Linked DNA regions of Homo sapiens: regions 1, 2 and 4 are each reported to be linked to region 3. The links are microRNA targets in miRTarBase. Many come from high-throughput screens and were not tested one by one. Region 3 holds a microRNA gene; each other region holds the end of a gene's coding sequence.
Evidence for each region. Region 3 holds the annotated microRNA hsa-miR-1827 (UGAGGCAGUAGAUUGAAU, at 3,821-3,838, opposite strand). A microRNA usually pairs through its seed, bases 2 to 8, with sites in the 3' UTR of a target mRNA and lowers its output. Matches are read on the target gene's strand: a 7mer-m8 pairs with bases 2 to 8, a 7mer-A1 pairs with bases 2 to 7 and ends in A, and an 8mer does both.

Region 1 (7,000 bases), not on the chromosome of region 3:
GCAGGGCTGTATTCCTTCCCAAGGCTCCAGGGGAGAATCTGTTCACTTGCCTTTCCCAGCTTCTAGAGGTTGCCTACATTCCTTGGCTTGCGGACCCTTCCTCCATCTCCAGAATCAGTAACGGTGAGTTGAGTCTTCGTCACATCACATCACTCTGATTTCTTCAGTAGTGATCCCTCTGATTCTTCTATTCTTGAGGCCCCCTGTGATGACATTGGGCCCATTCAAATCATCCAGGATAATTTCTCCAACTGCCAAGTCCCTTTGCCTTGCAAGATAACTGTGATAATGTGAAGTATATATTTGGTCTTTGTCCTGGCATGCAATTCCTAAAATCCTTGGAATCAGCAAATTGGTGTTTTTTTGTATGCTAATTAGTTGACTGATGACTCACAGTCCCTAGGTAGCTTTAGGATGGGACTGGTCACTGGAAAGACCAAGGTAGGATTAGAGGCTTGAGACTTTCAGCCCTCCCCCTCAACCTCTGGGGAGGAGACAGGGGCTGAAGCTTAAGCTGATCAATCATTCCTAGGTAATGAAGCCTCCATAAAATCCCAAAAGAAATGGGTTTGGAGAACTTCCAGATAGCTGAATGCATGGAGTTTCCTGGAGGGAGGCGCACTCAAAGAGGGCATGCGTGGAAGCTCTTGCCCTATGCATCTTTTCATCTGAATCCTTTGTAACATCCCTTGTAAGAAGTCAGTCTATGTGTCTTCCTGAGTTCTGTGAGCTGCCCTAGCAAATTAATTGAACATGAAGAGAGGGTTGTGGGAAATGCAATTTATAGCTGGTTAGTCAGAAGCGCAGGTGAAACAACCTGGGGCTGGCAACTGGCCTCAGAAGTGGGTGGCAGTTTTGTGGGACTGAGCCCTTAACCTATGGGGTCTGATGATATCGCCAGGTAGTTAGTGTTGGAATTGAACTGGAGCATACCCAGCTGGTATCTGCTGTAGAACTGATTGCTTATGTCAACCAAGAAGAGGTGAAAGGGCCAGGCATGGTGGCTCACGCCTGTAATCCCAGCACTTTGGGTGGCCGAGGCAGGGCGGATCACGAGGTCAAGAGATCGAGACCATCCTGGCCAACATGGTGAAACTCTGTCTCTACTAAAAATACAAAAATTAGCCGGGTGTGGTGCGCACGCCTGTAATCCCAGCTACTCAGGAGGCTGAGGCAGGAGAATCGCTTGAACCCAGGAGACGGAGGTTGTGGTGAGCCAAGATCGCACCACTGTACTCCAGCCTGGTGACAGAGCAAGACTGTCTCAAAAAAAAAAAAAAAAAAAAGAAGAGGTGAAAGACCACACTGCAAAGCAGTAAGACAAGGCATTTTTTTTTAATTAAAAAAAAAAAAAAGAAAAGAGACAGGGTCTCGCCATTTTGGCCAGCTTGGGGTCAAGTGATCCACCTGCCTCGGCCTCCGAAAGTGCTGGGATTATAGATGCAAGTTACCACGTCCAGCCAAACAAGGCATTTTGATTGGGGTCTTAGAAATTACAATTTGGGAGACACAGATTCACCTAGAAGCCAAATGGGGTTCTGAAAAGAGGGAGAGAAGTAGATGTTTTTAAAAGAAAGCAGAGGGTTAATACACAAATTGTTTTGAAAGAATTATCATTGGTGGAGGTGGCTGGCTTAGTACATGAATCCATAGTTGATTGGTTGCCGCTGTTCAGGAGTTGTAGCACTGGTGAAATTCAGTTTTCCAGGATGTAGTGGTTATTGCAGTTTTGGCCCAGTTCAAAGCTTCAAGGCAAGTTCATATTTTTTGTTTTTGTGTTTTGCAAGTTGCAGATTGTGCAGGCAGTCCTTCTTAGAATGGCTTCCCAACTCCATTTTAGAGCTCTGAACCAAAGTGATGCCATTTTGTGTATCACTTTTCACATTTTCCTTTTTTGATCAAGATCCGAGGCAGCATAGCTGATTAATCATTGGTTGGTTGGCCACAGATTAGTTATCTGTTCCCCTTAGAGCTAGAAGCACCTGTGTCTAGAGTGTTATGTCCCACAAAAAGTGGTTGTCAAGTCAGTGCACATCCAAGCTTCCAAGATTGGTCAAATTTGAGTAACAAAGGGTCCATTTTAACAAGGAGGCCTGCATTAGTCTATAGCAGTTAGCTGTATATCAGGAGAGACATACATTTGATTAACCATTTAAATGTCTAAATGTTGTGACATCATGATTTTAACATCTTGGATACAATGGGACAAACAGAAGGTACAAGTCCTTCTGCCAGCTGCTCGGGTCCTGGGTCCCTTGACTGTGGCTTCCAGAATAGCAGAGCAGCTTTTGGATCCTGCAAACAAGTGCTAAAAAAAAAAAAACACTGAAAATCAACTGATAAAAGACGGATTAATAGGAGAAAAGACATACAAGTTTTATTAACGTGCCTGGTGGGGAGGGGAGGCATCAGAGTGATGATTCCCCAACCCCCAATGGGGTGTGGACGCTTATATACCCTTTTTCATAGGAGAGTAAGGAGATGGGGAACGTGTGTAATTCTTCTGAGGAGCAGTAAATTATTATAAGGGAGAGTAAATGGACCAGGGAGACAGAAATTAACTTGTAAATGATTCTCTTTGGAATCTGAATGAGCCTGAGGGGCAGGCCTTATGAAAAGGTCCATCCATATGTGGCTCTATTCCTCAGTCTTCATTTTTTGATAGATAATGAGATTTGAAGGACAGAATAGAAGGCAACTGTGTTTCTTTTAGTAAGAAGCTTTCTTAGTCAGACAAGGAAATTCCAGAGGGAGTTCCTCTCTGCCCTTGGTTGAGGCAAGAATAAGACAAGGTTGGAGGGACCTTGACTCTCAAGTGTATTTCTCAGGCCTTTCCATTTTCAAAAGCATCCAGCATGCCAAAGTACCATCATTTTCTGTGCCTCAATATTCCCTAGTCTGAAATTTCCCTAGTAGTTTCACAAATGAAACAGTGAGTTGGCCATGAAGAGAAAAATCAAGTTAAATAGAATTTTGGCTGGGCACTGAGGCTCACACCTGTAATCCCAGCACTTTGGGAGGCCGAGGCGGCAGGATCACTTGAGGTCAGGAGTTTGAGACCAGTCTGACCAACATGGTGAAACCCTGTCTCTACTAAAAATACAAAAATTAGCTGGGCATGGTGGCACGTGCCTGTAATCCCAGCTACTGGACAGCTGGCAACCAAGGACGTTGGATAAAGAACCTCAACCAAGGTAGGGGGTTAAGGAATGAGACAACTCGTAAACAGAATCCGTGGCCATGGGAGAGGTGTGGAACACAAGGGGTTCCTCCTGCAGGAACTGTGCTCGAATCCGTGGCCGCACCAGAACAAAGAAGGGAGTTGCTTTTTTGTCCCACTCAATTCTGACACCATTTAATGTCATCCAAGGGGCAAAAGACCACACTGCAAAGCAGCAAGACAAGGTGTTTTTATTGAGGTCTTAGGAATTGCAATTTGGGAGACAGATTCAGCTAGAAGCCACTTGTGTTCTGAAGAGAGAGGGTAGAGGAGGGGTTTTTAAAAAAAGCTGAGGGTGATTAGACAAGTTGACAAGTTGTTTTGAAAGAGGCAACTGGCTTAGTACAAAAATCCATAGTTTATTGGTTGGTGCTGTTGAGGAGTTGTAGTGCTGGTGAAATAAAATTTTCCAGGATGCAGTGGTCATCGCAATTTGGCCCAATTCAAAGGTTCAAGGTAAGCTCCTGTATTGTTTTTTTTTTGGAGCTTTTAATTTTTTTTCAAGTTGCAGGTCATGTAGGGAGTCCTTTTTAGAATGGCTTCCTCCCTCCATTTTAGAGCTCTGAACCAAAGTGATGTCATTTATTTTATTTTATTTATTTATTTTTTAAGATGGAGTCTCACTCTGTCACCTAGGCTGGAGTGCAGTGGTGCAGTCTCGGCTCACTGCAACCTATGTCTCCCGGGTTCAAGCGATTCTCCTGCCTCAGCCTCCTAAGTAGCTGGGATTACAGGTGCACACCACCAGGCCCAGCTAATTTTTGTATTTTTAGTAGAGTCGGGGTTCACCTTCACCATGTTGCTAAGGCTAGTCTCAAACTCTTGACCTTGTGACCCACCTGCCTTGGCCTCTGAAAGTGCTGGGATTATAGGCGTGAGCCACCATGCCTGGCCTTTATTTTATTTTTTGAGGCAGAGTTTCACTCTGTCACCCAGGCTAGAGTGCAGTGGCATGATCTTGGCTCACTGCAACCTCTGCCTCCCCGGTTCAACCAGTTCTCCTGCCTCAGCCTCTCGAATAGCTGGGATTACAGGCGGCTGCCACTACCCCCAACTAATTTTTCTATTTTTAGTAGAGACAAGGTTTTGCCATGTTGGCTAGGCTGGTCTCGAACTCCTGACCTCGGGTGATCTGCCCACCTCGGCTTCCCAAAGTGCTAGGATTACAGGCGTGAGCCACTACACCCGGCCCAGAGTGAAGTCATTTTTCTATATCATGTTTCACACTTGCTTAATGTGTGGGGGAAACCCCCTCCCCCACATATCTGGTATCAGAAGTGTGAGAGTACACTAGGAGAAACCTCCTGAAGTGCTGGGATTACAAGTGTGAGCCACCATGCCCAGTCTAATGTGTTTCTGTAACTCCAAATCCTCTCTGAAACAAGATAAAGAATAGATTTTAAAATGTTTAAAAAAGACATGCTGGCGGGCGTGGTAGCTCATGCCTGTGATATGGTTTGGCTGTGTCTCCACACAAGTGTCACCTTGAATTGTAATAACCCCCATGTGACAAGGGCAGGGCCAGGTGGAGATACTTGAGTCATGGGAACGATTTCCCCCATACTATTCTCATGGTAGTGAATAAGTTTCATGAGCTCTGGTGGTTTTATAAATGGGAGTTTCCCTGCACAAGCTCTCTTGCCTGCCGCCATGTAAGACATGACTTTGCTTCTCATTTGCCTTCCACCATGATTGTGAGGCCTCCCTGGCCACGTGGAAATGTGCGTCAGTTAAGCCTCTTTCCTTTGTGAATTACCCAGTCTTAGGTATCTTTATTAGCAGCATGAGAATAGACTAATACACTCCTATAATCCCAGCATTTTAGGAGGCTAAAATGGGCAGATTGCTTGAGCCCAGGAGTTTGAGATCAGCCTGGGCAACATGGAGAAACCCTGTCTCTACTAAAAATACAAAAATTAGCTGGGCATGGTGGTGCAGGCCTGTAGTCCCAGCTACTCAGAGGCTGAGGCAGGAGAATCTCTTCAACCCAGGAGGCAGAGGTTGCAGGGAGCCAAGATTGTGCCATTGCACTCCAGCCTGGGCGATAGAAGGAGACTTGTCTCAAAAAACAAAAAACAAACAAAAAAAAAATTAGCTGGGCAGGATGGAGCGCGTCTGTAATCCCAGCTATTCGGGAGGCTGAGGTGGAAGGATCACTTGAGCCTGGGAGGTCCAGGCTGCAGTGAGCCATGATCATGCCACTGCACTCCAGCTTGGGTGACACAGTGAGACCCTGTCTCAATAAATAAATAAAGAAATAAAAAATTAGAAAGGAAAAAATTTTTAAAAAGATAGGGTATTTAGTGATGATCACTGAAGTACTTTGATCAAAATTAACTGATGTGCCAGTTTTTTGACACCTTTATTCATAAGTCAATATATTTGTCAGTTTGAATGTTATACACATGATAAAATAGATTATGAGAAGTATCATATTTACAATAAGAACACTATTTTATATAACTGACTCACCAAATATGCAACCTCTTGCAACAATAACAGAATGGACTCAACTCCATCCTTTGAATAGACCAATTTCATGATTCTCCTAAAAAGTTTTGAGTTGAGTATAGTTCCTTGTTGCTTCTCTCTGTGATCCAGAGCTTAAGAATCAATCCCTGGAAACCAGCCACTGGAACCAGACCTCTCCAGAATTGAGAAGAGACAGCCATAGAAAAAAGGACACAAACCCAAAAGTCTTGAGCGCTGTGCCATATGCTTGATTTCAGAGCATTCAGGCACTCAAGGTCAAGTGTGGGGCCATATATATATATGTCCTGTCATCTCAAATGCCACAACGGCTACAGTTAGCAGGATATCAGAGAGAGGAGGCATATCGTGGAGGAATGAATCAGTCCCAACAATTATGTGAGCATTTCTAAAAATTCAATACCAAGGATTCTTGAAAATACAAGTTTACAGACGGAAGCTATACAGCTAGCCATGAACTGAAGTGCATGTGCAATATCAAGAAGGAGGAGCTGTGCTTAAGAAACCACGCACGTCTTATTTATCTCTAATTTTAAAATAATTCATTCTCTTGTTGGGTATGCAAGTGAGCAGTGGAGAAAGTGGAGCATCTGCAATACCTGAAATTAAAAAAAAAAAAAAGGGAAAAAGAAAATTAAAAGTCATCACAGGAGGATGGATTTGAGTCAGTTTAAAAATGGCTGAGATTAGAGGGTGGATCATAGATGCCCCTCCTCCCTATTAAGTACAGAAGCAGAAGATGCAAGAGAGAGCAGGATGGGCTAGCAGACTAGGGTGATGGGTGAGCTCAGAAGTAATTAGCAGATTATAAGGATGGAATGGAGGCATGTTGTTAATTTTTCTAGCTTATAGAGTAAGCTGACCACTCACCCGCTGGTGCTAAGGATTTCAATGCTTCCAGAAGATGTGGGCTAGAGAACTTTATTAGGCATCGGAGGGGTTCTTCCCTCTCAGCCAAGATGCTCCCATTTAAACCACTTTTGAATTTCGTTTCAAGCTGTCAACAAACATTTATAAATGACTATTAAACATATTGTATAAATACGAATGGTAAAATATAATGAAATCATAATGATACGTTTCATTAATTCTTGCCATTAAGAAATACAGGAATTAACAGGGGTGGGGACCATTTAATCTGCTAACTGCAAACATAGAGGGCAGGTCGGGCAAAGTGGCTCATGCCTGTAATCTCAGCACTTTGGGAAGCCAAGGCGAGTGGATCACTTGAGGTTAGGAGTTTGAGACCAGCCTGGCCAACATGGTGAAACCCCGTCTTAACTAAAAATA
Region 2 (7,611 bases), not on the chromosome of region 3:
GGGTGGCCTGCAGGCAGCGCTGCTGGCCCTTGAGGTGGGGCTGGTGGGTCTGGGGGCCTCCTACCTGCTCCTTTGTACAGCCCTGCACCTGCCCTCCAGTCTTTTCCTACTCCTGGCCCAGGGTACCGCACTGGGGGCCGTCCTGGGCCTGAGCTGGCGCCGAGGCCTCATGGGTGTTCCCCTGGGCCTTGGAGCTGCCTGGCTCTTAGCTTGGCCAGGCCTAGCTCTACCTCTGGTGGCTATGGCAGCGGGGGGCAGATGGGTGCGGCAGCAGGGCCCCCGGGTGCGCCGGGGCATATCTCGACTCTGGTTGCGGGTTCTGCTGCGCCTGTCACCCATGGCCTTCCGGGCCCTGCAGGGCTGTGGGGCTGTGGGGGACCGGGGTCTGTTTGCACTGTACCCCAAAACCAACAAGGATGGCTTCCGCAGCCGCCTGCCCGTCCCTGGGCCCCGGCGGCGTAATCCCCGCACCACCCAACACCCATTAGCTCTGTTGGCAAGGGTCTGGGTCCTGTGCAAGGGCTGGAACTGGCGTCTGGCACGGGCCAGCCAGGGTTTAGCATCCCACTTGCCCCCGTGGGCCATCCACACACTGGCCAGCTGGGGCCTGCTTCGGGGTGAACGGCCCACCCGAATCCCCCGGCTACTACCACGCAGCCAGCGCCAGCTAGGGCCCCCTGCCTCCCGCCAGCCACTGCCAGGGACTCTAGCCGGGCGGAGGTCACGCACCCGCCAGTCCCGGGCCCTGCCCCCCTGGAGGTAGCTGACTCCAGCCCTTCCAGCCCAAATCTAGAGCATTGAGCACTTTATCTCCCACGACTCAGTGAAGTTTCTCCAGTCCCTAGTCCTCTCTTTTCACCCACCTTCCTCAGTTTGCTCACTTACCCCAGGCCCAGCCCTTCGGACCTCTAGACAGGCAGCCTCCTCAGCTGTGGAGTCCAGCAGTCACTCTGTGTTCTCCTGGCGCTCCTCCCCTAAGTTATTGCTGTTCGCCCGCTGTGTGTGCTCATCCTCACCCTCATTGACTCAGGCCTGGGGCCAGGGGTGGTGGAGGGTGGGAAGAGTCATGTTTTTTTTCTCCTCTTTGATTTTGTTTTTCTGTCTCCCTTCCAACCTGTCCCCTTCCCCCCACCAAAAAAAGAAAAAGACAAACACAAATAAAATATCTGAGCGGAACTGTGCCTTTGGCCCAGGCTGCCTCTGTCTGCTTTGTCCTGCCGCCTAGCCTCCCCGGTATGCCCCCAGGCTGACCCTCGGCCCGGCTCCATGACCTCTTCACCCCATCTCCGTTATCTCAGCCCCCTCACTCCTCCAGCCTCATGCTCTCTGCCTTCATAGCTTCATTGCACCATGACCACCACCGGCTCTGGGGTCTGGGCCCCTGTAGAACTTCACCGAACTTCTTGGTCCCACAGAGCGCCTGTTTGCGGGTTCCTTCCAGAGGTCTTAGTTTCCAGGCCCTTGGTCTCCTCATCCCTTGCCTTTTCTCCCAACCATGGCTGCAGGGGACCAAATTGCTCTCCTGCATCAGGCATTACCCTAGTGGGTTGGGGGACGGGGCTGCAGACCCTCCACAGTAGGGGGTGCTGAGCTGGGGGCAACCAGGCGGAGTATGAAGGCTGTGGCAGCAGGATTGAGTGTGGGCCTGGAGTGGGAGCTGAGTGTGTGAGGGGCCGGGCTGGAATGCGGATCTGGTCAGGGTGGTAGCTGCTGGCCGGTTGAACTTGTCAGGCCCTTTCTGGCCACCTCCTTTGCCCCTTTCTCCTCTGCGGCCCAAAATGGGGCAGCCCCTTCTTACCCATTTCTCAGCTCGGTGCTTCTCCTCCTTCCCTGCCTTCCTCCCTGAGCTGCTGGACCTGGGACTTCCTGTGTCTGTCCTTAGTCGTGTTGCTTTCTTCATGGGTGTTTTGTGTGACTGGTTCTTCTCGCTTGTTCTCGTGCACGTTCTCATATTTGCTCACGTGCTTCTGTCTCTAGGTCACAGTCTCTCCCTCTTTGCCTGGTCAGAGCTTCCAAGATCCTCAGTTCCCTGTCCAGTAACTCCGATGTTCTTTCTCGTGGGTATCGCACCCAACTCCGTGCACGTGCTCTTGGAACCTCTTGTCTTCTCTGCATCTCTTGCCCATCGAGACCTTCCTGATCTCTCTCAACACGATCCCACCTCTCCATGTCTGTCTGTCTGTATACAGCTCCCCCCACCCCCTCTGTCTAACATGTTTTCTGTTTCTCTCCCTCTCCCTGTCTCTGCTTCTGTCTCCTCTCCTCTTCTCTCTCTTCTCCCCATTTCCCCTGGTTGTTCCTCCTCTTCCTCTTCCTCCTCTTCCTCCTCCTCTTCCCCGCTGCCCCCATCTCCCCTTGATCCGTCCACTGCATAGTCTAAGGAGCTGCAGATCAAGAAGCAGTTCCAGGAGACGTGTAAGATCCAGACTCGGCAGTACAAGGCTCTGCGAGCACACTTGCTGGAGACCACGCCCAAAGCTCAGCACAAGAGCCTCCTTAAGCGGCTCAAGGAAGAGCAGACCCGCAAGCTGGCGATCTTGGCGGAGCAGTATGACCAGTCCATCTCAGAGATGCTCAGCTCACAGGCGGTGAGGCCTGGGGTCCAGGGAGGGAGTGCGCTAGAGGCCAGGCTCTGTACTTTGCTTTAGAGAAATGGACGGTGCAGGGCATGCACAGAGCTGGGGCTTTTTTACTTGGGAAACTCACATACTCTCCCTCTGTTCGTGTTCTCCACAATGATTTATTTCATATTCTCCTCAGTGGTTTTATTCTTTCTCTTAGTATTTTCTTAAGGTCTTGACAAAGCCATGTGCCTATTCCCAAGAACCACCAAGGAAAAGAGTGGCTATTATTTTTTTCCTGGGCCTGAGTTAGTTTAATGGGTAAACAGGGTGCAGATTAAAGTGAGTGTGGCCCTCAAGCCCATTTACTCAGACTTCTGGAGGATTTTGAAAGTTGCTGTTCTAAAAAAATGATCACACCTAACACTGGAATGGGCCACTTAAAATGTGCGGAGAGGGTGGAGAGTGGAAACGCCCCACCCAAGGCTGTTCTCTCACCCAGTCCCACCTCTCCCAGGTAACTTGTTAATAATTAACTGTATTTTGTGTTTTTTCAGTGCACATTTTGAAAAATTATATGAATTTTAAACACAGATGGAATCATACTTTACATTTACTTTCTGTAACTTCTTTTTTCCACTTAATATTTCTTGGACATCTTCCCCTGTCAGTACACCTGTCTCATTTTTTTTACAGCATAGAATTTTCCATGGTATGGCTGTACCATAATTTATTTAACCCATCCCTTATTGGTGGACATTTAGGTTGTTTCCAGTATTTTGCTATCACAACGCTTCCGTGAACACCTCGAGCACATGTGCAAGTATACCTGGGGGATAGATTCTGCAGTGTAATTGCTGTGCCACAGGGTATGACCATCTTCCATTCTGATAGATGTTGAGACCGCTGCTTCTTGAAACCTTAGGGCCCAGGCCTACCTGGGGCAGGGGAGGATAGTGGGGGTGGGGGAGGAGATCCCTACAACTGGTTGTTCATCTTCCCCAGCTGCGGCTTGATGAGACCCAGGAGGCAGAGTTCCAGGCCCTTCGGCAGCAGCTTCAACAGGAGCTGGAGCTGCTCAACGCTTACCAGAGCAAGATCAAGATCCGCACAGAGAGCCAGCACGAGAGGGAGCTGCGGGAGCTGGAGCAGAGGGTCGCGCTGCGGCGGGCACTGCTGGAGCAGCGGGTAAGGGGCCCAGCCTCCAGGACTGGGGAGGGAGGGTGGGCTCCTGCCCCCGACTCTAACCTCTGTTCCGGATGCCCCAGGTGGAAGAGGAGCTGCTGGCCCTGCAGACAGGACGCTCCGAGCGAATCCGCAGTCTGCTTGAGCGGCAGGCCCGTGAGATCGAGGCCTTCGATGCGGAAAGCATGAGGCTGGGCTTCTCCAGCATGGCTCTGGGGGGCATCCCGGCTGAAGCTGCTGCCCAGGGCTATCCTGCTCCACCCCCTGCCCCAGCCTGGCCCTCCCGTCCCGTTCCCCGTTCTGGGGCACACTGGAGCCATGGCCCTCCTCCACCAGGCATGCCCCCTCCAGCCTGGCGTCAGCCGTCTCTGCTGGCTCCCCCAGGCCCCCCAAACTGGCTGGGGCCCCCCACACAAAGTGGGACACCCCGTGGCGGAGCCCTGCTGCTGCTAAGAAACAGCCCCCAGCCCCTGCGGCGGGCAGCCTCGGGGGGCAGTGGCAGTGAGAATGTGGGCCCCCCTGCTGCCGCGGTGCCCGGGCCCCTGAGCCGCAGCACCAGTGTCGCTTCCCACATCCTCAATGGTTCTTCCCACTTCTATTCCTGAGGTGCAGCGGGGAGGAGCAGATGAGCTGGGCAGGGCAGGGGTGGGTGGAGCCTGACCCTGGAGGGCACTGAGCTGGAGGCCCCTGCAAGGGTAGGGGACAAGATGTAGGCTCCAGCTCCCCTCAGACCTCCTCATCTCATGAGCTTCTTGGGGCTGGCCAGTGGCCCAGGGCCAGCTTGGCGATAGGTGCCTCAAGGCTGCCTGGGAGCCCCGCCTCCCTACCATGGTGCCAGGGGTCTCCCTCCGCCACCTAGGAAAGGAGGGAGATGTGCGTGTCAAATATTCATCTAGTCCCCTGGGGGAGGGGAAGGGTGGGTCTAGACATACTATATTCAGAGAACTATACTACCCTCACAGTGAGGCCCTCAGACCTGCCACAGGGCAGAGCAGGTCTGGGGCCTGAGGCAGGGAGAATGAGAGGCCACCTTACTGGCAGGAAGGATCAGGATGGGGTCTTGGGGTCAGGATGCCTGGGTCTCTTCCCGTAACTGTCTGACGTCCTGTGCCGTCTTGTCCTTTATCTTTTTTTTTTTTTTTTTAATTGGGATCAGGGCTGGGGCGGGGAAACAAGGGAAGGACCTTGGAAGGGGCTGCTCCCAGGCCTGGGGGGCAGTCGTGGGAGCCCCTCTCAGCTGTGGGGCTGGCACAGAGCCCCAGGCAAGCTTTTAATAAACTGTTGGTTATTCTAACAGATCTCAGGACTCACCCTTCTGTCTTTGGTGTGCGTGAAGGACTGCTCAGTGGCCACTGAATAGTACTGCTTGTGTTTTATAAAGAGAATTTATTGGGCTGTGTATCTAAACATTTCAGTGATTTTAATGACTTTAGGTGTGACCAGATCTCGGATCTCAAAGGTGGTCTTCAACCCCTTGACCTCTAATTCGTTTTCTTTGCTTTGACTTCAAAGATTCTTAGGTTTGCCTCCCACACAGACCCCAGGCAGCTCCATGCTCACGAATCTTCCCGCAAGCCTCAGCAGCCAGAGTTCAGTGGAGACCTCATGTGACTGCAGAGGCTGGGCCTGTAGCCAGAGGCCTAGAGGGCTAGGACTGGCCCAGGAGGTATGGGCTTTTCCCCACCCCTTTGAGGCTAACAGCCCATGGACAAAGTGGCTGTTTGCATAAGGGAGAAGGCTTAAGCACTGGCTGCCCTCAAGTCATTCTATCCCTCTCCCAAGTGGGCATTAGGTTATCAGACTAGGCTAAAAGCAGAGGGGCCACGGGGTAGGCGGGCAGCACAGGAGCCACACACCCTTCTCCAAAAGGGTCTGGTGGCTGTTGGATGACAGGGTCTGGAGGCAGGGACTTCTTCCAGGAACCCGGGGGAAATTAAAGGGAACCAGGCCAGGGGAGGAGGTGGAGGCAGTGACTACTGCTCAGTTTCCTGGCCCAAAATACAGGAGGTGAGAATGGGGGACCAAATTTGATGAGGTGATTAAAAACACTCCTTTATTGAGTCTTAAAAAATAAACACCTTAAAGGGACAGCGTGAAGCTGAGAAGTAGCATCCCAACAGCTTGTGTCCTTGGGAGCTGCAGTCTTCTCTGAAGGAAGCTGCTTCTGTTCCACAGACACAGGGCAAGGGGTGCTATGTATGCTTTGTACATGTATCAAGGGTCCCTCCTGGGGGTGGCAGAGCTCAGTTACTCTCGCCATCACTGCTGATGATGCCACGCATATGTGACCAGTCTGGGGGTGCGGGACGGGGCCGCTCTTCATCTGAGTCCAGGGTCCGTCGGTACAGCTCCCCTGGGGGTGCTGCTTCTCCTAAAGGGTTCCAGGCTGTACGTCTGCGTGGCCGGCCTAGGGGAAAGGGGAAACGAGAGATCAGATGTCTGAGAAGGTCCAACCCCACCTATCTGCTCCTGGGCAGTGAGAGGAAACCCCTTACCCGAGCCACTGATGATGTTCGCAACATCCAAGGAGGCCACCTCAGCTGCCTCCTCCCTCTGCTCCTTCAGGGCCCGACACTTCCCTAGGGAAGGGGTACCTGGGGCAGAAGAAGCTGGTGATTCTCTCCTCCCCAGCAGGAAGGCCCTCTCCTGCAGCCCCCAGGGCACGCCGGGCCTCACCCTTCATGCCTAGCGCTTCCAGTTCTGCCCGGAGGATACTCAGGCGCTCCTTGTGTGAGCAACAGGAGCCCAACAGCTTCTTGTAGTTTCGATGGGCACCACAGGCCCGAATGTAGCGCTTCAGCCTCATCACAGCCGGGTGGTCCTCTCCACGGCGACCTGAGCCAGCCTAGCAAGGAAAGAGCAGCTGAAGGCCAAGCCTGCTGGGCCTGAGGCAGGGTCTCCCTCTTCCCTAATAGTGGCCTCCCACCCCTCCTCACCCTCACCTTCCCTCCTTTGGCCTCTGGACTTCCATCTGAGGAGGAAGAGGAGCTTCGTGTCCTGCCTTTCCTGGAGCTCTTCTTGGAAGAGCGGTTCTTCCTCTCCCCCTGGGGGCCTCCCCCTGCCTCGCTGTCACTTACCTCCCTCTCCAAGTCACTTTCCTCACCACTGGTGCTGCCCAGTCTGGCCATCTTTCTAGAGCCTTTAGCTGTGGGTTCCCCCTTCCCACTGTCTTCCTCGTCCTCGCTGCTTCCACTCAACCTCTTCCCACCCTTAAGCTGGGTCCTGTCCTCACTCTTCCTCTGCACTGGGGGTTCTCTATCTCTCCCACTGTCATCCCCACTGCTGGCTGCCTCTTTCTGCTCTTCCTCGCTGTCTGAGTCTCCCAAGAGCCTCTTTGCCTGGCTTTTCTGCTTACAGCTCCTCTCCTCCCTAGCTGACTTTCTCCGGCCATTGCTCCTGGTTCTGGGTTTCCAATCCCCCTTTTCCTCATCCTCTTCTTTCTCTTCCTCCTCCACTTCCTCCTCTCTCTGCTCTTTCTTCTGGGCTAGGATCTCCTCTTCACTCTCCTGTTCACTTTCCTTCAGGCTTTTAGTTCCTTTATTTCCCTCCACCTTCTTTGCTGTCCTCTGAACGGGTTCTGCCTCGCTCTCCTCACTTTCTTCCCTGGCCTGCTTCCTACTGACTGAGGCCTTGCCTGGTGCCTGCTTCTTTACCACAGGTTTCTTCCTAGTCTTCCCCTTGTACCCCTTTTCCTCCTCCTCACTGCTCTCCTCTCCCCTCTGTGCGGGCAGGTCCCTCTGCCGTTCCTCATCACTGCTCTCCTCAACTGCCTTTGAGGCTCGCCTTGGATTCTCCTCTTTGGCTGGGCTGACTTCTGCTGCCACCCCATTCTTTGCTGGGGGTCCAAAGTAGTCTGGGCTGGAGG
Region 3 (7,611 bases):
CATTTCACAAAATATTCTTTTAATTGTTTTCAGCCATTTAAAAATGTTAGCTGGGCACAGTGGCTCACTCCGGTACTCCTCCCAGCACTTTGGGAGGCCAAAGTGGGAGGATCACTTGAGCCCAAGAGTTCAAGACCAACCTGGGCAACAAAGTGAGACCCCATCTCTATAAAAATTTTAAAACTGGCCAGATGTGGTAGCAAATGTCTGTAGTCCCAGCTACTTGGGAGGCTGAGGCAGGATTGCTTGAGCCCAAGAGGTAGAGATTGCAGTGAGCTGTGTTCTCACCACTGTACTCCAGCCTGGGTGACAGGCTGTTTTTTGTTTCAAAAAAACAAAATAGCAAAATAAAAATGTTAAAACCATTCTTGGCTTGTAGATTGTACAGAAATAGGCAGAGGCTGGAAATGACTCCAGGCTGTAGTTCACTGACTTGCGTTCTAGGAAGGCCTCAGGAGCTTCCCACTCACTCACTCACTGTGTGTGATTAGGCACTAGGGATATGACTGGACAAGATAGTCCCTGTCCTTGTGGAGCTGTCAGTATCCAGGGAACAGATATTAATAAAATATAACAAACACCAACCAGTGCTAGGAAGTTTGAAAGGAAAGAGAGGCAGTACATGTATAGTTCAGGATCTTGATGTGGTTTAGGGGTTGGGGAGGGCTAGGAAAGACTTTCCTGAAGAAGCGACATTCCAGCTGAGACACAAAGGACGAGTTGGTGTTGACTGGGGGGCGTGGAGAGGGGGAGTAAAGTGTTCTAGGGAGAGGAAGTGGCATAAACAGAGGCCTTTAGGTGGGGGTGCTGTTTGCATGTGGGACTCAAGGAGTGCCTGGTGGCAGCTAGGGGTGAAGGGGACATAGCCTTTGGAAGAGGCAGGGCTTGGGTCAGGGCAGGATTTTGGTCTTTGTCCTAAGAGCTATGGAGTCAGTGAAGAGTTTTAAGCAGAGTTTGACAAATCGTTTCTTTTCTTTCTTCTTCTTCTCCCAAATTGATTGCCTTTGTTTATTTGGGCTGCTGTGATAAAATACCATAGACAAGGTAGCTTATGAACAACAGAAATTTATTTCTCATAGTTCTGGAGGCTGGGAAGTCCAAGATGAAGACAGCAGCAGATTTGGTGTCTGGTGGGGGCTCACTCTCTGTTTTAGAGATGATGCCTTGTAGCGGTGTTCTCACAGCAGAAGGGACAGACAAGTTCCCTCTGGGGCCTCCATCTATGTATACATATATATGTGTGTATATATCCATGTATGTATACATATATATGTATGTATGTATCTAGCTACCTAGCTAAGTGTATTTTTCTCCTGAAATCCCTTTTACCACTCTGGCCTCTTCTATAAGGACCCTGATCTCATTCCAGAGGGGTCTGCCCTCATGACTTAATCACTTCCCACAAGGCTTCACTCTTACTACTATTATCTTGGGGACTAGGTCTCAACATAGGAATTTTGTGGGGACACAGACATTCAGACCGTGGCACTGATGATGGTTTAGTCATGCCTAGTATTTTTATTTAACTAGGTTGGAGGATTATCTTGTTTGTGTATGAAGGGTTGAAGTATTTATATGTTATGTACTGGCAAACATTTAAAAGTAGATAAATGCAAAGCTGAACCTATTTGGAGCAGTTGCTTCTTAATTGTTTCTGAGTTGGGGGTGCTGTGATGGATGAAGCTCACTTTGGCAGGTATGTGTGGCTGGGGCCAGCCCCACCCCGGTGGACTTCCTTTCCTGAAGGATTCCTAATGGCCCTTAGCATTGACTTCTCTCCTGCTGCACTTGCTTTGCTTGTATGCACATTGCCAGTTTCCTTCCACCATGGAGATAACAATTTCTTGAGAAATGAAAGGAGGGGTCAGATGCATTCGGGGTGGAGGTGTACCAGCTCCCACCTCACTGAGGCATCTGATGAGGGTAGACAGGTGTCCTTGGTCAGACGCTTTTACCTTTGAGGCACTGGGGTGCAGACTTCCCACCTCCAGTCAGAACAAAATATAGACAGTAACAACCCCTTCCTCTAAAGAAAGAAAAGGACCCTGCCATTGTATCTCAGACTGGGAGAGGGAAGGGCATTTTCATTAGCAATTTTCAGTTCTGGTATTTATGTAGTGGGGTCTTAATGATATTTGATTGGGTGTTTACCTATATCGTATCAGGCTAGCCCTCAGCTGGGTTTCGTTTACTTTCACAGAATGAATGTATTGTGGAAATGGTAAACTAGGTAGTCGTGACTAATTAGTGGCTTCTAACTAGTGTTCTGTGAAATACTCTGCCTAAAGTGCTCAGTTCAGTAAACATCCTGAGCACTCGGTTGTGTGAGACCATCTGAGGGGCAAGGAGCTGAGAGGATCCCTAGGGAGACTGTGGCTTTCATGATTGTCCAGTAGGCAGTAGCTCACCAGCCAGCACAGGGGGCCCTCAGTCGGCTAGAGATTCAGGATGGTTTTGCTCCCTGATCTAGTCTTTGAGCATCTGCTGTTGTGTCCTACTAGAGCATCACCTCCTAGGAGGAGATTTTGTCAGTATAGTTCACTACTGTGCCTTTCATGCTTAGAGGATGCCAGATGCTTATTGCCTAACCCAAGCTTTAAGCCCTCATATCCTCTTGGAGTGTGTGTGTGTGTGTGTGTGTGTGTGTGTGTGTGTGTGTGTGTAAACCTCTCCCTCTCTGGATCAGTGAGAGTGTTGTTAAGGTTACAAATAAGAAATGCCTAGCACACTGCCTGACTGATTGTAAGTGCTCTGTAAATGGTGGCTACACACCCCAGGCCTGCTGGCATTGCTGCCACTGTTGCCCCTCTGACTCTTTTGAGCCAGTAGGTGAAGTGTGTCTCCACTCCCTTGGGTGGAGTGGACAGGGTGCCTTTCTCAAGGGCAGTTGTGAGGGCTGAGCTGGCCGGGAAGGTGTGCTCTTCCTTCCAGGCCTCCCTCCCACAGGTCTTCTGCGGGCCCTGCAGTTGGCCCTGCTCTGACTCTTAGTTTTTGCTTCATTCTTGACCCACTCAGGCCTGGTAGAAAGAGTTATCTGTGAGCACGGCGGGGGTTCCCAAGAATCTATTATGGTTTTAGTGTCTAGGACTCTAAAGTCGTGACAGTGACTCGTCTCTTCAGCCCCTGTTTGCAGCAGAGGGCGCAAACCAGCTCAAAGCAGGCACACAGATGTTTGGTGAATTGGGAGAAGTTGTTCCTGTCCAGGAGCCATAACGTGGTATTTGTAATTTTCCTCGTTGGAAGGCATGGCTCTGTCTGCCAAGAAAGACAAGGCATGTAGTCACCATGCTGCTGCCTCACAGTGACATTTTTAAAGCCAGACCTTCTAGAGAAGGAAGCAGGAAGGAAGGCGACTTGCTTTTGGGCCCGTGGAGTTTCAGCAGTTGCGGGAAGTTGGCTGGGCTGTGTGTGTGTGTTGCTGCATTGGTGCCTGGTCTTCTTTGATAGCTCCCAGGAGCATGAGGTTGTGCTTAGCAGTTGTGTCCCATCAGTCCTCTTGGTCTCGATCAGTTCACACGCTCCCAGGGCCCCACGTATCAGAAGGGCCGCCGTTGCATAACACTGTCCATGGAAATCACTGCAGTCATGAGAGGAGCAGTGGCTTTGGCCTGTAGACTCAGAGACCTTTCACCATGACTCAGCATGGGAAGCGGAGGCTCAGAGAACTTCAGCCTGTCTTGTCCAGGGCCACCAAGGGAGCAACTGAGCCATGTCTTCTGTTATATTTAGAGTTGGGGGCTGAGGAGGGGCGCCTATCTGCATTCTCTGCCGGTCCTGGGTCCACCTGTTGCAGGGACCCAATTCTAAGGGACCTGAATCAATTCAATCTACTGCCTCAGCCTTTCAGAGGCTTCTCATTGCTTTAGGCTGAAGGCTGTGCTGCTGAACATGGCCTTCAGGGTCCCATGGGGTCTGACTCCTGTCATTTCCTCTGTTGCAGGCCCACTTGACTTCTTGCAGTTCTTCAGATGTATTGTCTTCCCGACAGGCCCTGCCTCAGGCTGTCCCTTTGCAGGGCGGGCTGTCTCTTCTCTGGTTACTTCTGTTCGTTCTTCAGAGAAGCCTTCCCTGTTCCTCCCATTCCTCACTGCCGTGCTTCTCCTTCACAGCCCTTACCACTGCCTGTAGTTACTGTATTTCTTTGTGTACTCATCTGTGGTCTAGCTCCCTTGCAAGGCTGGGAGCTCCATGGGGCAGGGACCCTGTCTGTCTTGTCTCTGGTTTACCCCAGTGCCTCACACGGCCTGGTACATAGTGGGTGTCCAGCATCGACTTGAGGAAGAGTGATGAGGGAAGGCTCCAGACCCTTTCAGGGGCAGAGTTGCTCTACTGCTCCTGCTCCTGCTGCTTGGGGCTCATCATCCTCTGCCCTGCACACCCGTGGCAGGGGGGGTCTGCCCACACCCACCTGCCTTTGTGCCACACTCCCTTCCCTAGCAGGACGATGGTTCCTCTCAGCACTGTCCTTTTTGTTTGGCCTCCTGGTGGGAGGTGAAGCCAGCTGGACTTCCTGGGTCGAGTGGGGACTTGGAGAACTTTTCTGTCTAGCTAGAGGATTGTAAACACACCAGTCAGCGCTGTGTCTAGCTAAAGGATTGTAAATGCACCAATCAGCACTCTGTAAAAACGCACCAATCAGTGCTCTGTGTCCAGCTAAAGGATTGTAAACACACCAATCAGTACTCTGTAAAATGGATCAATCAGCACTCTGTAAAATGGACCAATCAGCGCTCTGTAAAATGGACCAATGAGCAGGATGTGGGCAGGGACAAATGAGGGAATAAAAGCTGGCCACCCCACCCAGCAGCGGCAACCTGCTCGGGTCCCCTTCCATGCTGTGGAACCTTTGTTCTTTCGCTCTTCATCATAAATCTTACTGCTGCTCACTCTTTGGGTCCGTGCCACCTTTAAGAGCTGCAACACTCACCGCAAAGGTCTGCAGCTTCATTCTTGAAGTTGGCGAGACTAAGAACCCACCAGAAGGAACCAATTCTGGACACTGGGAAGGATGTTACCTTCGGACACAGTGTTGTTCACTTTTTTGACTGGGAACCGACAGCAGATAATACACCTTTGTATGTAAATGTATACTGTCAGTATGTACATAAAACTGAAAGAAAAATGTCACTGCTACATATAGTAAAGCTAAGTACTATTTTCTCTTTTAATACTAAAAAAAATGCTTGTCCCCTCAAAATTGACTTCTTATCTTCTTAATTTGATATCCTGGCCCACAGTGGGTCACCACTCAAGTTTAGAGAAGCCCATTCTGCAGGACTGCCTGGCTGTGCAGCTGGTGCTCCCTCCCTCCCTGCTGCATTTTCCTCTCCCCCTCACTGTGGGATGGGGCTGAGGTTGTTCCCTTGGGTAAGAGGCTGTCCCTCCCTGCCTTCAGCAGTTTGAAGGGTTCTCAGGAAGACAGGCAGGCAAGGCCTGTGAGTCCTCTGCCACAGGTGCCGTAGGGTGCAGTTCAAGGCTGAACCCAGCATGTCACAGCCTCCCTGGGTGCACCAGGAAGAAATGGCTTATTCTTTGCGGTGTGGGTTTTGGGAGAGGCTAGTGATGGTTTTGCTCTGAAGACGAGTTTTGACTTAAAGGGCTTGAGCGATGGAGAGGGACTGGCCAAAGGGAAATGTAAGTTCAAGGACACCCATGCAGAGGCAAGGAAGTCAGAACAGGGTGTGTCTCACAAGTGGCATGGGTTCTCATGCCAGGTGCATAGGGTGCTTAAGGGGGTGAGGATAGAAGAGGAGCTGAGGAGGCCAGGGAGCCCAGGGTGAAGGGGTGGGGGTGTCTGCCCTTTGGGCAGTAGGGAACCAGTGGAGCTGTACCTGTCTGAAAGTTCTACAACAAGAGTATTGTTTCTTAGATGTTTGGTTTATTTGAGGCTGTGCACGTTTTATTAGGTGTTTGCTCTAATGTGTTAGAATTGGAAGGATGATGTACTCATCTGTCCAGGTAAATGTCTAGAGTATTTTGGAAAGGGTCTTTCTGATGACACCCTCCCAGATCCTCAGGATCAAAAGACATCATATCAGAAGTAAATATATTCTAACTTTGGACATTAATGCTCCAAACTTGAATGCCAGCTGAAGCCTGGACCACAGCAGAAAGCAGCCTCTCAAAGTCCTTGGTTTGAAGGGCAATAGCTTTTTAGAGAGTGATTGTATTAATTTGCTCTGGCTGCTGTAACAAGTTACCATAAACTTGATGTTTTAAAACAACACATATTAATTCTCTGATAGTTTGGGAGGCCAGAAGTTCAAAATCAGCTTCACTAGGCCTAAGTTCAGGTGTCGACAGGACTGGTTTCTTTGGAGGCTCCAGGGCAAAGTCGGTTCCGGGCCTCTTCCAGCTTCTGGTGGCTGCTGGCATTGCTTGGTCTATGGCTGGCTTGCTGTAATCTCTGCTTCCCTGGCCACATTGCCATCTCCTCTTCTGCAGTTGAATCTAGGCCCACTCCTGAGATAACAGCGTTAATCCATTCGTGAGGACTGAGCCTTCATGGCCTAATCACCTCTTAATGGTTCCACCTCTTAATACTATCACAGTGACAATTACATTTCAACATGAGTTTTGGAGGGGACGTTCAAACCATAGCAAATGACCTCTGGCTTGCAGGCCTGCCACCTGATAGATTCCCCATTTGGCCTGCCTTCTTAGTTGTGTGTTTGTACTTCATTGTAAAAGTCATGCATGTGTATAAAAAGAAAAATCAGCCATTGCTGAGGGGTGCACAGTTAAAAGTGAAAGTCCTTCTAAGTCCACTTCCCAGAAGTCACCACTAGAACTGAAATTGGTTATGTATGCACCCTGAAATTTGCTCGGTGTATATGTGATCTACACAGAGGGATCATGCAGTATCCACTGTTTTAGTGTATAGCTATTTCAGTGACTTAGAATTCCACTCACTCTTCCTTCAAACACAGTTTCTCTATATTTACCATGTCATGAGGCCCACTTATGCCAAAGCTGTGCTCTTACCTGCAGGTGAGTCAGGAGGGGTTAGCAATGGCGGGGAGTGTAGGGCCACTTGCCATGCCCCTTTGAACTGGGGCATTATATAGGCACTTATCTGGAATGTCTTAACTTGTTAGTCTTTATTAGAGCTCTTGTTCTAACAGAGTTCAGTTATATGAATGCGCCCTAATTTAACCAGTTTCCTAGCCACAGACATCTGCTTGTTTCTACTTTTTTTTGTCATTTCAAATAGCATTTTTGTGGTATCCTTGTGTGTGTATATATGTATATATATATATATATATCTCTGTCCTTGTGAGAATATATTTGAGGAATTAATTTGTGGAGGAGGAAATACTGAGTCAACTTTATTGGGATGGCTACAGAGGAAACTCCCCCAACAACCTCCTCCCTGGACCCCCAACCTTTGTTTCCCTCAACAGGGCTTGTAGTCTGGAGGGAGGGAGGGAGCTGGCAGCAGTGGTAGCCTACCTCCCTCCCGTACACGAAGTCCTGGCAAGTGCAAACCCTCTGCCTCTGCCATGTCATCCCACTGCTGAAGAGGTTGTGGTGTTGCCTAAAATGTGGCTGTGCAGGCAGTTTGTGGAGGAGTTAACTCGGAAGAGATTTGATGGAACATTTCCCAACAAT
Region 4 (7,611 bases), not on the chromosome of region 3:
CTGACCTTTGTATGAAGCCATAATGGAGCCAGGCGTGGTGGCTCACACCTATAATCCCAGTACTTTGGGAGGCCAAGGTGGGCGAGGTCAGGTGTTCCAGACCAGCCTGGCCAAGATGGTGAAACCTCGTCTCTACTAAAAGTACAAAAATTGGCCGGGCGCAGTGGCTCACACCTGTAATCCCAGCACTTTGGAAGGCCAAGGTGGGCGGATCACGAGGTCAGGAGATCGAGACCATCCTGGCTAACATGGTGAAACCCCATCTTTACTAAAAATACAAAAAACTAGCCGGGTATGGTGACAGGTGCCTGTAGTCCCAGCTACTCGGGAGGCTGAGGCAGGAGAATGGCGTGAACCCGGGATGCAGAGCTTGCAGTGAGCCAAGATCGCACCACTGCACTCCAGCCTGGGCAACAGAGTGAGACTCCGTCTCGGAAAAAAAAAAAAAAAGTACAAAATTAGCAGGGCATGTGACACACACTTGTAGTCCCAGCTACTAGGGAGGCTGAAATGGGAGAACTGCTTGAACCCGGGAGGCAGAGATTGCAGTGAGCTGAGATCATGCCATTGCACTCCAGCCTAGGCAACAGAGTGAGACTCCGTCTAAAAAAAAAAAGAAAAAAAGAAAAAAAAAAAAAGAGAGAGGAAGAGGAAGGAAGGGAGGGAGGGAGGGAGACACATAATGGAGAATACAAAAGGAAGAAAAGAAGAAAAGATTTCTACCCTAAAAATATTAAAATCGGCTGGAGACAAACTGAACAAGACAGCAAGACTTAAGGATATATGCTGAATAGCATTTGAGTAGTACAGAACAGCTTAGCACAGAGAAAACCCACACAAAGGGAAGCCATCAGTGACTGTGACAGGGAGTGAAGGAGGGCAACTGGGGAATACATCCTAGGAGGTAGGAAAAGCACAGAGCCCGTGCATCCTCCAGACACCAGTGGCTTATTGTGGCCCTTGGGCAAATAAGTTCCACCTCTGTCAGCTTCAGTTTGCTCAACTTGAAAACAGAAGGCAAGGACTAGATGGTCTGTAATGTCTTTCAGCTATAATGATACAGGATTCTTAAGGACAAACACAGAGAACTTGGGAAGGTGAGGATGTTACAGGAAGAGGAAAGACAAGCACAAAGCCACAGAAGTAGGAAAACACTAGTTGTGCATAGGCAGCGTGTGTTGTGGGATGGCAAAGACCCTAAACAAGCCTGTTTAACTGTTCTTTTTTTTTTTGAGACATTTAAAATGGCCCCCAGGTTTAGTGCTGTCGTGTTCCTAAATTCAAGAAGGCTATGATGTGCCTTTTTGAGAAAATAAGTGTTAGATAAGCTTTGTTCATGGATGAGTTAGTGCTGCTAGCCATGAATTAACAAATCAGTAGTATATATGTATTACATATACTACTATATATGTCTCTAAACAGAAACACTCATAAAACAAGGTTATGTATTGGTTGGTTGATGAAAATGTGACTAGAGGCTTGCAGGAACTTAACCCTATATTTTCCCTAGAAGTAGTGGTTTAGTATTAACAGCAACTTTACACAACTACTGAAAATTCCAAGAATTGACTGCACTGGGTATCTACAGCCTTGCTATTATTACTATTTTCTTCATAAACTGAATCTCACTGTATATTAACATTTCTCAAAATATATGGAATACGTAAACAAAACCCTAAAACTTCACTGAGAAGAAAAGCTGGTTCAGATAGAGAACACTACTATGTTCCCACACAGAAAGAACTTAGTATTACAAAGTTTATCAGCCGGGTGTGGTGGCTCACGCCTGTAATCCCAGCACTTTGGGAGGCTGAGGCAGACGGATCACGAGGTCAGGAGATCGAGACCATCCTGGCTAACACGGTGAAACCCCGTCTCTACTAAAACTACAAAAAATTAGCCAGGCGTGGTGGTGGGTGCCTGTAGTCCCAGCTACTCGGGAGGCTGAGGCAGGAGAATGGCATGAACCCGGGAGGTGGAGCTTGCAGTGGACTGAGATTGCACCACTACACTCCAGCCTGGGTGACAGAGCAAGACTACGTCTCAAAAAAAAAAAATTTATCTTCCTTTTCAAAAGTACTCCTATTGGCTGGGCGCAGTGGCTCACACCTGTAATCTCAGCACTTTGGAAGCCTGAGGCAGGCAGATCGCTTGAGGTCTGGCATTAGAGACCAGCCTGGCCAAAATGGTGAAACCCTGTCTCTACTAAAAATACAAAGATTAGCTGGGTGTGGTGGTGCATGCCTGTAATCCCAGCTACTCGGGAGGCTGAGGCACGAGAATTGCTTGAACCCGGGACACAGAGGTTGCAGTGAGCCAAGATCGCACCACTGTACTCCAGCCTTGATGAAGGAGTGAGACTGTCTCAAAAAAAAAGAAAAGAAAAAAAAACGAAAAGAAAGTACTCCTCTTTATTTCACAGATCCACAAGAATTTCACATTAATAAAGGCCAGTATCAGATATACTTTTAATGCCTTTAGAAAATGTCTGCTGTTGGTTTATTATGACAGAGATTCTTCTTGTTATGGAGTTATTTTCTAGGTTAAGTCTTCAGGAACAAGAACTGTATGTTATTAAATGTTATATGTATGATATCTATTATAGGTAATACATGAATTGTTTGCTGACTACATTAATCTATTTCAAAATACTAAGTTATGCTCACATAATTATGATAGATTAAAAGAAACTGATATTTCATTTTCTATTCCTTCACTTTGGGTTTTCTATCTATATTCATAATACATTTCTTTAAAAACTAATGTTCGGCCGGACGCGGTGGCTCACGCCTGTAATCCCAGCACTTTGGGAGGCCGAGGCGGGCGAATCACGAGGTCAGGAGATTCAGACCATCCTGGCTAACACAGTGAAACCCCGTCTCTACTAAAAGTACAAAACATTAGCCGGGCATAGTGGTGGGCACCTGTAGTCTCAGCTACTCAGGAGGCTGAGGCAGGAGAATGGCGTGAACCCGGGAGGCAGAGTTTGCAGTGAGCCGAGATTGCACCACTGCACTCCAGCCTGGGTGACAGAGCTAGACTCTGTCTCAAAAAAAAAAAAAGAAAAGAAAAGAAAAGAAAAGAAAAGAAAAAAAACTAAAGTTCATATGTAACATCTCATTAAATATCAGATGTGTACAAAATGCTGCAGTCCTAAGATCCCATCTGCCTTTTAGGGGGTGGTGAAGAGGGGTCAAGAGAAGCATGTTAAACTCTAGTCTGTTTTCTATTCATACTATAATGCTTCCTTTATAGCAAATGATGGTAATCAGTTCAAATAGCTTTTTCTTCACCCAATTTTAGCCCTTTCACATGGAAATGAAATAATGACCTCTAGTGGAATAAACTCAATCTAGTACCCACTGTGATTTATTATTACATTTAAACTGTTACTAGACTGGCTTCACACTGCAAACATCCTAGACACAAAAACTCTCAAAACAAATTTTTTTTTTTTTTTTGAAACAGTCTCGCTCTGTCACTCAGGCTGAAGTGCAGTGGTGTGATCTCAGCTCACTGCAACCTCTGCCTCCAGGGTTCAAGTGATTCTCCTGCCTAAGCCTCCTGAGTAACTGAGATTACAGGCACCCGCCACCACACCAAGCTAATTTTTGTATTTTCAGTAGACAGGGTTTCACCATGTTACCCAGGCTGGTCTCGAACTCCTGACCTCAAGTGATTCGCCCATCTCGGCCTCCCAAAGTGCTGAGGTCACAGGCATGAGCCACCATGCCAGGACAAAACGTAATTTTAGATCTCTTATGCTAAGTGGCCATTTTCATTTAAATTTTAAATTTAAGAGCCAGGTCTCACTAGGTTACCCAGGCTGCTTGCAATCATAGCACGCTACAGCTTCAAATTCCCAGGCTATAGCGATCCTCTTGCCTTAGCCTCCCCAGTAGCAGGGACTACAAGTGTGCACCACGGCACTAAGCTCCAATTTTTATTTGTTATCTGCTTCTGTCTATAAGCTCCACGAGGACAGGAGCCAACTGTTTATTTCCTACTCTTGCAGGGTTTTGTTTGACCCCTTCAACAAATCTCTCCACTTGCTGCATTACAGGGGTCTCTTGCCTTTTGCCTTCTACTTGGATACAAGCAATAGGAGCACCAACAGGTCAGAAGATGGAAAAGAATGAAATCCAGTTATTTATTCCCCCAGCTTATTAATTAATGAAAGGTATAGGCCGGGGACGCACGGTGGCTCACGCCTGTAATCCCAGCACATTGGGAGGCCTCGTGCAGATCATGAGGTCAGGAGAACGAGACCATCCTAACACAGTGAAACCCCGTCTCTACTAAAAAGACAAAAAATTAGCTGGGTGTGGTGGCAGGCACCTGTAGTCCCAGCTACTCGGGAGGCTGAGGCAGGAGAATGGCCTGAACCCGGGAGGCAGAGCTTGCAGTGAGCCAAGATCGCGCCACTGTACTCCAGCCTGGGCAACAGAGCAAGACTGTCTCCAGAAAAAAAAAAAAAAAAAAAAAAAAAACGTGTGGAGAAAAATTACATATTGGTTGTATCTTGTCAAGCCAACTCACCTTTAATATATTTACTATTAAAGAATTGTCTTAAGTCTGGCCAACATGGTGAAACCCCGTCTCTACTAAAAATACAAAAAAATTAGCTGGGTGTGGTGGCGCACGCTTATAATCCCAGCTACTCTGGAGGCTGAGGCACAATAATCTCTTGAACCCGGGACGCAGAGGTTGCAGTGAGCCAAGATCGCACCACTGCACTCCAGCCTGGGTGACACAGCAAGACTCTGTCTCAAAAGAAAGAAAGAAAAAATTGTCTTAATCATCATGAATTTCATACATCCCTTTTTGGATCATAGAACCTGTAATACAACTGGGTGACCACTGCCAATAATTTGTGGGGGAAAAAACGCTAATTACTATATAACTTCAATGACTTACAAAAAAAAATTATCAACTGTGGAAAAATCAAAAAGCATTTGAATTTACTTGATGAGGTAAGATACTTAAAAAAATATATATCTAGTATTTATTTATACCAATATATACATTTATATATCTAATATATATGACAGGTACATTCTACATGTATACTAATATATCTATTAGTATATATTTATATATTAGTATAAATACATATATATATAAATACATATATATATCTCTCTCTCGATTTTTTTTTGAGACGTAGTCTCACTCCATCGCCCAGGCTGGAGTGCAGTGGCACAATCTCGGCTCACTGCAACCTCCGCCTCCTGGGTTCAAGCAATTCTCCTGCCTCGGCCTCATGAGTAGCTGGGATTACAGGCGCCTGTCACTGCACCTGGCTAACTTTTGTATTTTTAGTAGAAATGGGGTTTCACCCTCTTGGCCAAGCTGGTCTTCAACTCCTGACCTCGTGATCCACCTGCCTCGGCCTCCCAAAGTGCTGGGATTACAGGCGTGAGCCACCACACCCAGGCTAAACTTTTTTAAGGTAACGATCTTTGCAGAAAATTTCTTTACTTAAAAAAAAAAAAACTCACATACATGATGAAAATACAGATTTAAGCCACCCACATCCTCAGTTGTTTTCCTTAGCATATAAATACTTCGTAGTAAGCTTTACAAAGAACTGATGCACTGAGAGACATTTTTTCTGAGCTTAGCAAATCAAAAACAATTTTTAAAAGTCCTTATTAACAATTAGAACAGTTTTGCTGTCAAATAAAGTAGGTCTTTTCTCTTTTATTCTCAAAGAACCCCTTAATAAAGGAGGCACTGACAGGTACATTACACATTAATAGGAGATTTTAACACTGCTCATAACTGATAATCTAGTGACCATTAACTCCAAGTTATAACTTGGAAAACATAAAACTATATCCTATTAAGAACTGATTAAAAAGCAAAAGAAACAAAAGTAAGACATTAGCAGCTAGACAACAAAGCAATGACCCTTAATTTAGAAGACAACTTTTTACCAGGTACCTAAGACTCCGTGGAGTAAAACTCAGGAAAGGAGAATCAATTCTAGACCCCATCCCATAAGGACTTTAGTTTCCGAAATACCAAAACAAACTTCTTACTTCCCCTGTGGGTAGGTGCCACAGAATGAAGAGTAAAGCAATAAAATGCATATTCAGTGCATGTGAAGTAGAAGGGTATATATCCTATATATATTGTTAAGTTTAGCCTAAAGTCTCTTTACATATCTCAAGTTCAGCTTAAAGGTTTCTCAGTACATAGAACTGTAGCCTAACTGGACGTGTAAACAGACGGTACCCTACTCTTGTGGCAATCACTAAGTTTCAGCCAACCAAAGACAGCGAACTGTTCAAACCATATTCAAATAAGGCAAACGCTGAACTGTAACTAATCCGGCTGTTGCTGTATCTCACTTCCATTTTCCATACATCACTTTCCTTCTGTCCATAAATCTTCAACTATGCAGCTGGGCTGAAGCCTCTGAGCCTATTATGGTTCAGGGGCTACCTGATTTGTGAATTGTCCTTTGCTCAATTAAACTCTGCCAAATTTAATTTGTCTAAGGCTTTTATTTTAACCTTATTCATCATAAAAAGAAAAAGAAAAATTTTAGTTCAAAAACTTAAAACCTGATCAACTAAAAATGAAACTGCCCAGTAGAAATGCTTAGCTCTCACTGTGGTAATTTCGTGAATGTGGAGGAAACTACTAAAACTTTGATATACTAAATAGACAGCTCTGTCCCACATTTATGTTTATTAAAAACTGACATAAACAAACACAACCTGTACAAAAAATATCCCAAATCTCATATGACTTTGAAATCTTGAGAGACATTATCGCCTAGGACCCCCTCTTCCTCTGCCACGGCCACGTCCTCTTCCTCTTCCTCTTCCTCTGCCTCTTCCTGCAACTGAAGGAAAAGAAAAACAAACCAAGTTCAATTCTCTCCTGCACCAATGTTACCTAGACACCACAAACAACATTTACACACACACCTTTCCCTGTTTATAGCTCTTTATTAGTAGCTACAGTAAATAAAGTTTAACTAGCTTCTGTTAAATGTGTTAGACTTCAGATTCCCTCCACCCCCCAACACATTATCATGCAGAACCAATAACTAAAGGCCTAGGGAGATTATTATTTGTTTCATTTCAATTTATTTACTAAGAAATGTGTCAAATTTAAAAATACTTTTTCTTTATATCATGTCTCAAATTCACCATAAAATGATTTGAACCTCACAAAAAAAGGGAAGATATATATCACAGAATAAAACATGATCACCTTGATGCCAGAGTTTTGGTAACTGAATAAAATCCAAGCAAGTTAATTCAAAACCAGGAAAGTTTAAATGTATTACATCAAATCACAATCTTATTAACTCTTCAGAAAATTAAAACTCATTTGACCTACACATAATCTAGTGCTTTAATCCAAATAGTAATATCCCTACTGGGTCATCCTAACTCTAGTTGAGTATCATGGTGATAGGGAATTCATGACCCAAATAAACTTATTTCATCTTCAGACAGCTAAGAATATTAGAAAATCTTGACATAGAAGTCAGTCACATTCTAAATGTTTTTGTTTTTGTTTTTTAAATACAGGGTCTCACTCTGTAGTCCCATCTGGAGTGTAATTACACCTCACTGCAGCCTTGAACTC

Region 1: the mRNA of CENPN is a reported target of hsa-miR-1827. Seed matches in the 3' UTR shown: 7mer-m8 at 5,212-5,218, 8mer at 5,185-5,192 and 8mer at 4,129-4,136.
Region 2: the mRNA of HIRIP3 is a reported target of hsa-miR-1827. Seed matches in the 3' UTR shown: 7mer-m8 at 5,710-5,716 and 7mer-m8 at 5,646-5,652.
Region 4: the mRNA of SNRPD1 is a reported target of hsa-miR-1827. Seed matches in the 3' UTR shown: 7mer-A1 at 4,671-4,677, 7mer-m8 at 4,391-4,397, 8mer at 4,364-4,371, 7mer-m8 at 2,977-2,983 and 8mer at 2,950-2,957.

The regions. Positions count from the first base shown.
Region 1 is chr16:81,027,878-81,034,877 of GRCh38, reverse strand. It overlaps CENPN (centromere protein N), which reads right to left. Exons shown (of 11, transcript NM_001100624.3): 10 at 6,581-6,707; 11 at 3,393-6,309. The coding sequence ends at 6,227. It overlaps CENPN-AS1 (CENPN antisense RNA 1), which reads left to right. Exons shown (of 4, transcript XR_007065134.1): 2 at 1-123. Among named protein-coding and RNA genes, the nearest start is that of ATMIN, 4.5 kb to the left of the region's middle.
Region 2 is chr16:29,987,218-29,994,828 of GRCh38, forward strand. HIRIP3 (HIRA interacting protein 3) reads right to left here. Exons shown (of 7, transcript NM_003609.5): 4 at 6,689-7,611; 5 at 6,423-6,591; 6 at 6,242-6,340; 7 at 5,113-6,153. The coding sequence ends at 5,990. It overlaps TAOK2 (TAO kinase 2), which reads left to right. Exons shown (of 16, transcript NM_016151.4): 16 at 1-1,176. The coding sequence ends at 763. Among named protein-coding and RNA genes, the nearest start is that of HIRIP3, 4.6 kb to the right of the region's middle. RefSeq lists enhancers at 3,615-4,202, 5,890-6,390, 6,391-6,891.
Region 3 is chr12:100,186,159-100,193,769 of GRCh38, reverse strand. MIR1827 (microRNA 1827) reads right to left here and starts at 3,886; the gene lies at 3,821-3,886.
Region 4 is chr18:21,628,307-21,635,917 of GRCh38, reverse strand. It overlaps SNRPD1 (small nuclear ribonucleoprotein D1 polypeptide), which reads right to left. Exons shown (of 4, transcript NM_006938.4): 4 at 2,398-6,856. The coding sequence ends at 6,780. Among named protein-coding and RNA genes, the nearest start is that of SNRPD1, 20 kb to the right of the region's middle.